Linked DNA regions of Homo sapiens. The protein of the gene in region 1 binds, or shares a complex with, the protein of each later gene. Each region holds a gene or a part of one and is shown in the gene's direction. Other genes may lie near its edges.

Evidence for each region.
Region 2: the proteins of NR5A2 (region 1) and NR0B2 are in contact, whole or in part, in a crystal structure (PDB 1YUC), measured with the Homo sapiens proteins. Residues at the interface, in NP_995582.1 of Homo sapiens: Phe354, Val357, Arg361, Phe366, Val371, Asp372, Gln374, Met375, Leu378, Gln379, Asn529, Asn530, Leu531, Glu534, Met535; in NP_068804.1 of Homo sapiens: Arg17 (codon at 1,758), Pro18 (codon at 1,761), Ala19 (codon at 1,764), Ile20 (codon at 1,767), Leu21 (codon at 1,770), Tyr22 (codon at 1,773), Leu24 (codon at 1,779), Leu25 (codon at 1,782), Ser26 (codon at 1,785), Ser27 (codon at 1,788), Ser28 (codon at 1,791).

Annotation. Positions count from the first base shown.
Region 1 is NC_000001.11:200,044,466-200,048,280, forward strand, and holds part of NR5A2 (nuclear receptor subfamily 5 group A member 2), read left to right. Parts: intron 1-977; coding exon 978-1,119; intron 1,120-3,706; coding exon 3,707-3,815. UniProt on the Homo sapiens protein: Orphan nuclear receptor that binds DNA as a monomer to the 5'-TCAAGGCCA-3' sequence and controls expression of target genes: regulates key biological processes, such as early embryonic development, cholesterol and bile acid synthesis pathways, as well as liver and pancreas morphogenesis.
Region 2 is NC_000001.11:26,911,144-26,915,649, reverse strand, and holds NR0B2 (nuclear receptor subfamily 0 group B member 2), read left to right. Parts: upstream 1-1,674; 5' UTR 1,675-1,709; coding exon 1,710-2,241; intron 2,242-3,245; coding exon of another isoform or gene 3,246-3,337; exon of another isoform or gene 3,338-3,563; coding exon 3,564-3,805; 3' UTR 3,806-4,161; downstream 4,162-4,506. Other genes in the region: nuclear migration protein nudC, read right to left, coding at 4,415-4,506. UniProt on the Homo sapiens protein: Transcriptional regulator that acts as a negative regulator of receptor-dependent signaling pathways. Specifically inhibits transactivation of the nuclear receptor with which it interacts.

The DNA of each region.
Region 1 (3,815 bases):
GTGCATGGATTTTAATATGTAAAATATGCTATATTGTTACCAAAAATATAAATTATACTTTAAGAATTTATCTCAGGACTTTTTAATACATTCCCAGTAAATTCAATATTCACTATTTTTCAAAGTTTTTTTTGTTTGTTTGTTTTTGTTTTTAAGTGGAAAACTCAGTACAATTACTTAAACCACCACCAGGAAAATCCCTCCATTCTCTATAACAAAGTAAGAATGTTTCTCTTTGTGGCAAGTGGGTTAAATATGAATACTATCCTGGTAAATCTCATATTATAAAGCTACACATTTTATTTTTGATTAATTCTTTTATATAAAATATAAGGAAAGCTCATACCCTGTGTGCTACAATTCAGCTATCTGTGATACATGCTTTTTCCTTCCATTAGTTTTGCCTTTTTAAGAACAGTTCCCATACTTGAATGTATTCCAGTGGAATTATGAGCATTTTCCCATTTTACTCTTTAAATCCTTTTGCTTTTAACTATCCAGTGTTGACATTTGTTAAAAAAAAAAAAAAATCTGAGGTGTTTTGCTATTCAGTTTTTTCCACTGGCATTTTGCAATGGTTTATCACTGAAATTATATCAGACTACTTAAAAACAATGCCAGGACTTCATGAGTACCTCTATCAGGAACATGTGGGATAATAGGAAAATAGATTAAAAAAAAATTTATCTATATAGAGTGTATTTTTTCTGACTGTTGGGATAAAATGGTGGGTAGCCAAATCTCCCCAGGATTTGACGTAATTCTTCAAGAATAAAACTGATGCCAGAAAAATCTCCACCATGGCCTGGCACAGTTTGGGAAGGTTGATGTTGCTGAAATGTAAAATAAACCACAGAACCACATAAGGGCTCAAATAGTGCAATGAGAGGATTTACTGGTGATTTTCTTAAAATGAAACAATGGAAAAGACGGGTGTTAGATTTATAATACGTCTCACTATTTTCTCTGTCTTATAGGGATTTTTTAAGCGAACAGTCCAAAATAATAAAAGGTACACATGTATAGAAAACCAGAACTGCCAAATTGACAAAACACAGAGAAAGCGTTGTCCTTACTGTCGTTTTCAAAAATGTCTAAGTGTTGGAATGAAGCTAGAAGGTAAGATTCTTCTAAAGACTACTGCCTATTAAAACTCTCCAAGGACATGAACTGTAAAACAACATTGTACTTATAGCATGGTAACATTATTTTCCCAGCATTTTAACACTACCGACAATACTGTAAGATCTTTCTATGTTTCATCTGCAGAATAGTCTGAGTCTCATTTAATCATGGTGAAATCTACTAGGAAAAAAATTTAAAATATTAGTTGTCTTTCCCCTGCCCACCCCCTTTTTTTTAGTCTGGGGAGCAGATGCATTAGACACAAAAAAGGGAAAAAGATCAGGTTATGAAAATAAGACTAAAGCAATCCAACTGAAAACAAGAATAATTTGTAAAACTATTAAAAGTAAAATATTCTTTGAGTTTTTAAATCAAGATACCCTTGGAAAAGTTTGATTTCAATTCTTTTTAAAAGAGGTGTGCTTGTCACAAGTGTTAACTACTAATTTCATGATTCTTAAGAGTTAAAGCCTTTAATGGTGAAAAGGAGTTTCTCATGTAGGATATTATCTTTGATAGTGTAGAAATGTATTTTTTTAAAAGATAATGACTGAGGCTGCAAAATAAAAAATTGAGAATCAGGAAACATGAAAAATAACGAACTATTAAATCATTAGCAAAGGTCTGAAAAGAACAAGAAAGTGGCTCCTGAAAAGCCACACTTGAACTTTGTTGAAAGAGCAGACCCTATACTACAATGTACAGATTGGCAGGCAGTAAAGTTAATATGTGACTGCTGTAAATAATTTGTAGTTCATGGACTACTATGGTATGTTGCTGCTTTCTAGCCTCTGACCTGCTTGCTTTCCATGGATTAAATATACTGCAAATAAAGCAATAACAGGGATACATATCACCGATGGTGCTAGATACAAGAGTGCATTTTATTTGATCAATGAGGCACAGGCTATTTTTATTTGGAACTTTTCTGTTATATGGAACTCATACTTGATAGAAATACTAAAAAAAAAAATCATATAAATCTGCTGAATAGCTAACACGCTTCTTCCGAACAGAGGTAGCCACTTTGGTTATTATGAGGACTGTTAATGTCAGTATCATTTTTAAGAGATCATGAAAGGAAATAATTGATGCTTATTAATTTTCTTATTACCAATCACTATTATTTCCCAAATAGCAAAATATTGTGGTAGATGCTTACTACATACAGTAAGAGACTCAGAAGATAAGTAAATGTTGTGATTTTGCATGATGTCATTTAATTCCTTTTCAACAAAAATAATAAGGCTGCATTTCTTTACCTTAAATAATTAAACTTTCTTTTTTTTAAGTTAAGCTTTCACAATTGTAAATCACTTGTGGTACATGCTCATGCTTCCTTAGGAGTGATATGAAACAACTGAATATTCAATAAATTATCATCCAGATGAAAAACTCTTTATAATCTTGTGCAATATTCTGTATACTTAGAATTTACAATAAATTTTTAATGTGATACTAATCCAAGATAAAAAGCTCAAAAACTTAACCTCCAGCAAGTTCAATATGTCACAAGCTATCAGAGGTCTCTAGTTTCTGTCTAATTGCCATTGGCCACTATGGACTTAGAGGGAACTGCTAACTAACTTATTAGTCATGGCCGCAGACTCCACACACCACTGTCGCAGAAGACTCTCTTGACAGCTTCTGAAATGAATTTGTTTTAATTATGTCCAATTCTACTTAAATTAAAAGCAGTAACTGGTGGTCATCTGATGTGGGCTCATCAAGTCCAGGTGAACATGATTTTCCAAGAACATGTCCCCACCCCTTTTGTTATTGCAACAAGGTGGCCAAAATGGCTTTCAGGGAGGAAGGTATCTTGTGGGAAAGTATTCACAATTTAATCCAAAATTGGGTAACTCAGTTCCACACCCCTGCAAAAGAAAACCCCAAAGCAGTTTGGGTTTCCATAAGGAACTGGCATAATAAAAGCATATACTCTTAGTAGAACGACTGATACTCTTTCTTAGCAATGTGAAATATTTCTTTTCTTTTTTTTGAGACAGGGGTTTCACTCTTGTTGCCCAGGCTGGAGTGCAGTGGTGTGATCTTGGCTCACTGCAACCTCCACTTCCCGGGTTCAAGCGATTCTCCTGTCTCAGCCTCCTGAATAGCTGGGATTACAGGCACCCACCACTACGCCTGGCTAATTTTTTGTATCTTTAGTAGAGATGGGGTTTCATCATGTTGGCCAGGCTGGTCTTGAACTCCTGACCTCAGGTGATCCACCCGCCTTGGCCTCCCAAAGTGCAGGGATTACAGGTGTGAGCCACCGCACCACGCCTATGTGAAATATTTCTATGTCTAACAAAAATTATGAACTCTCCTCCATCCACAAAAGGGTTAATATGTCCCTATGTGGCCAAAGTATTTTTTTGATGACGACACACACTTGGAGGAAGGAATTCATAAATAAAGAGGACATGGTTTTTTGGGAAATCTTTGTGGGCTATTGTAACGAAAACAACCACACACATACCACTTCTTGTCGATTTACATTTCTAAATATCTGAAGAATGCTAATAATTTGCACCTTATTTATACCTTTCCTTCCTTCCCCCCACCCCACCCCCAACAGCTGTAAGGGCCGACCGAATGCGTGGAGGAAGGAATAAGTTTGGGCCAATGTACAAGAGAGACAGGGCCCTGAAGCAACAGAAAAAAGCCCTCATCCGAGCCAATGGACT
Region 2 (4,506 bases), about 170 Mb from region 1:
CAAGGATCAACCCAAGTCACATAACCAAAAAGTGATGGATTCTGGAGCAGATGCCAGGGCTAGTGATGCCAGAGCCTCTCTCTCCCCATCCAGGGCACCAGGCTGCCCAACAGCATGCAGCAGAAGGCTTGCCACACTGGACTGGCCAAGGTCCAGGAACATGACACAACCAAGGGCCTCTCCACCTTCTCTCATCCCCTGTGCTCCACCATCTGAGAAAGATGCCCGGGACAGAGGAGCCACGTGGCAGCAGAGCAACACTTCTGCCCAGATCACAAGTGGGCAACGTCTGCAAAGCAGGCAGCAGCAAGGTGGGGGCAGCTAGCCACAAGCTCTGAGAATCTCAGGCTCTGGCTGTGCAATTGGGCCAGTGGGTCCAGGGAAACAAACAAGGACTTTGGAGTCAGGCAAGATCTGGGCTTTGTCTTCCTGGTGGGATGACCTTGGGCAAGTCACTTTAGCTTTTTTAGTCTCATAAAGTAAGAATCTAGCCTTAGGAAGAGGCTGCCAATATTAGAGTGGGAAGTGCCTGACACATAATAAGTGCTTAGAGAATGGCAACCATATATATACATATATATATATATATATGTATGTATGTATGTGTATATATATATACACATATACATATAAATATACATATACATATACATATACATATACATATACATATATATTTTTTTGAGACAGGATCTTGCTCTGTTGCCCAGGCTGGAGAGCAGTGGCATGATCTCAGCTCACTGTAACCTCTGCCTCCCAGTTTCGAGTGATTCTTTTGCCTTAGCCTCTAGAGTAGCTGGGACTACAGGCACATGCCACCATGCCCGGCTAATTTTTGTATTTTTAGTAGAGACGGGATTTTGCCATGTTGGCCAGGCTGGTCTTGAACTCCTGACCTCAAATGATCCCCCTTCCTCAGCCTCCCAAAGTGCTGGGATTACAGGCATGAGCCACCGTGCCCGGCTGGCAACTATCTTTTATTATAATTCTGTGAGTTCTTCTCAGCAGACCTGGCCTTTCAGGAGTGGTAGGAATCAGGCTGGGGATAAGGATTCTGAAGGACCTTATTCCTGCAGGGGGCCCAGAACTGGAATCAGAGGAGGAGGCCTCCTAGATTGGACAGTGGGCAAAGTCCTCCCAGCCCCCAGGGTCCTGGCTCCCTTCCCTGTAGCCTGCTTCTGGCTGACAACAGAAGCAGGGCCCCAAGGTTAGGCAAACAAGCTAGTGATAAGGCACTTCCAGGTTGGGCCTTGCATTCAAGGCCCACCCAGCTCTGGGGCTGGCTTCCTGGCTTAGCAAAAGCCCTAGTCTTTTGTGCACACAAGAGCGGGCACCAATGGGGACACCTGCTGATTGTGCACCTGGGGCCTTGGTGCCCTGGTACAGCCTGAGTTAATGACCTTGTTTATCCACTTGAGTCATCTGATAAGGGGCAGCTGAGTGAGCGGCAGGTGGCCCTGTGCCCTGCACCGGCCACTTCATTGACTGAGGTGATATCAGTGCCACGTGGGGTTCCCAATGCCCCCTCCCCCACCACTTCCCCACCATTCCTGCCAGGGGCAATGTCTGTGTGTTTTTTTCAATGAACATGACTTCTGGAGTCAAGGTTGTTGGGCCATTCCCCCCGTTCCACTCACTGGGAATATAAATAGCACCCACAGCGCAGAACACAGAGCCAGAGAGCTGGAAGTGAGAGCAGATCCCTAACCATGAGCACCAGCCAACCAGGGGCCTGCCCATGCCAGGGAGCTGCAAGCCGCCCCGCCATTCTCTACGCACTTCTGAGCTCCAGCCTCAAGGCTGTCCCCCGACCCCGTAGCCGCTGCCTATGTAGGCAGCACCGGCCCGTCCAGCTATGTGCACCTCATCGCACCTGCCGGGAGGCCTTGGATGTTCTGGCCAAGACAGTGGCCTTCCTCAGGAACCTGCCATCCTTCTGGCAGCTGCCTCCCCAGGACCAGCGGCGGCTGCTGCAGGGTTGCTGGGGCCCCCTCTTCCTGCTTGGGTTGGCCCAAGATGCTGTGACCTTTGAGGTGGCTGAGGCCCCGGTGCCCAGCATACTCAAGAAGATTCTGCTGGAGGAGCCCAGCAGCAGTGGAGGCAGTGGCCAACTGCCAGACAGACCCCAGCCCTCCCTGGCTGCGGTGCAGTGGCTTCAATGCTGTCTGGAGTCCTTCTGGAGCCTGGAGCTTAGCCCCAAGGAATATGCCTGCCTGAAAGGGACCATCCTCTTCAACCCCGGTGAGCTCCCAGACACTCCTGGGTGGGGGGCAAGGCTGAAGCAGGGGCCAGCCAGGGAAGGTAGCTTCTAAGGGTTTGATATCTGTTATCTCATTGGGTCCTCATTTTCTTTTTATTTTTCTGAGACAGAGTCTCACTCTGTCACCCAGTCTGGAGTGCAGTGGTGCGATCTTGGCTCACTGCAACCTCTGCCTCCTGGGTTCAAGCAATTTTCTCTGCCTCAGCCTCCCGAGTAGCTGGGATTACAGATGGCCGCCACCACTCCCGGCTAATTTTTGTACTTTTTAGTAGAGATGGGCTTTCACCATGTTGATCAAGCTGGTCTTGAACTCCTAACCCCTCAGGTGATCCACCCACCTTGGCCTCCCAAAGTGCTGGGATTACAGGCGTGAGCCACCGTGCTTGGCCAGTCCTCATTTTCATCAAATAGCCATCTCACAGAAGAGGCACAGAGAAGCTAAGTGACTAGCTAAAGGTAACACAGCCAGGTAGGGACAGACCAGGATGGCAACTCAGGTCTATTCACTCCAGAGACTGGCCCTTGCCACTCTGCCTGAGAAATTTGCTCTGACCTTTACAGAAGGCTGTGGGGAGGTGGGGTGGGCAGACACAGCTGTGTCTCAGTCACATCCTCAAAGGAAGGCTGCATGGTGAAGCTCTAGAGCTAAAACTCCTCTGTGGGTTCAGAAAGATCACATAGAAGAGATGACTGAAAGGGGCGTAGGGAGGACAGGAAAGGAGTCTTTATGGAATTCGGCCAGGAGAGCGGCAGATGGAGACAGTGCTGTTTGTAATCTGGAGAGCATCTGAGATGAGAGTTCCCCAGGAGTCCCTTGTGGCACGCATAAATCGTAGTAATTAATTGTAATAATAGTAGCAAATACTCATATCACACTTACCATATGTTAGGCCCTATTCTAAGGGTTTTACATATACTAGTTCATTTAAATCTCATAAAAGCCTAGGAGACAGGTCCTATTAATATTATTATTCCCGTTTTACAGATAAAGAAACTGAAGCCCAGAGATTAAGTGACTTGCCCAAGGTCACCCAGCTAATAAGTGACAGTGCTGGGATTCATACCCAGGAAGCCTAATTCTTAACCATTACTCCACACTGCCTCTTCATAAATGGATGGATGAATACATTGAAAATTGATAAATAAATTACCTCCTCTAAAGGAGGAGGTAGTAGTGGGACCTCAAAGGCCGAGCAAAGGAGGCAGAGGGGTGTCTCTGATGGCCCAGATCTTGGGCCAGTCTTGTCCTTTGGTGGCTGGGAGTAGGGTGCTCACCAGCCCTCTTCTCCCTCTCTGCCCACAGATGTGCCAGGCCTCCAAGCCGCCTCCCACATTGGGCACCTGCAGCAGGAGGCTCACTGGGTGCTGTGTGAAGTCCTGGAACCCTGGTGCCCAGCAGCCCAAGGCCGCCTGACCCGTGTCCTCCTCACGGCCTCCACCCTCAAGTCCATTCCGACCAGCCTGCTTGGGGACCTCTTCTTTCGCCCTATCATTGGAGATGTTGACATCGCTGGCCTTCTTGGGGACATGCTTTTGCTCAGGTGACCTGTTCCAGCCCAGGCAGAGATCAGGTGGGCAGAGGCTGGCAGTGCTGATTCAGCCTGGCCATCCCCAGAGGTGACCCAATGCTCCTGGAGGGGGCAAGCCTGTATAGACAGCACTTGGCTCCTTAGGAACAGCTCTTCACTCAGCCACACCCCACATTGGACTTCCTTGGTTTGGACACAGTGTTCCAGCTGCCTGGGAGGCTTTTGGTGGTCCCCACAGCCTCTGGGCCAAGACTCCTGTCCCTTCTTGGGATGAGAATGAAAGCTTAGGCTGCTTATTGGACCAGAAGTCCTATCGACTTTATACAGAACTGAATTAAGTTATTGATTTTTGTAATAAAAGGTATGAAACACTTGGAGCCTGATACTGTCATTTGTGCATATGGAAGGGACTGTCTCACCTCCAGGGCCCACCCTGCTGCTATCAGAGGTAGCCCAAGGGAAAAAATCCACAGGGTTGCTGGAGCTAATTTTCCAGGGAACAGTATCAGTTCACAATCCCATCACCTCATTGTCTTTATCCTCAGGGGAAGGAGGTTGCTCTCCCATTCCCAAACCCTTCACTAACCGCTCCCCTGGCTCCTACCCACTTCAGGCGCCCTCTTACCACAGTGAAAGCCCAATCACAGCCAATCAGGAAGCAGCCCACTCCCGAATTGAAACAGACAAGTTCACTGCCATTTCTGTAGTTTGAGATCA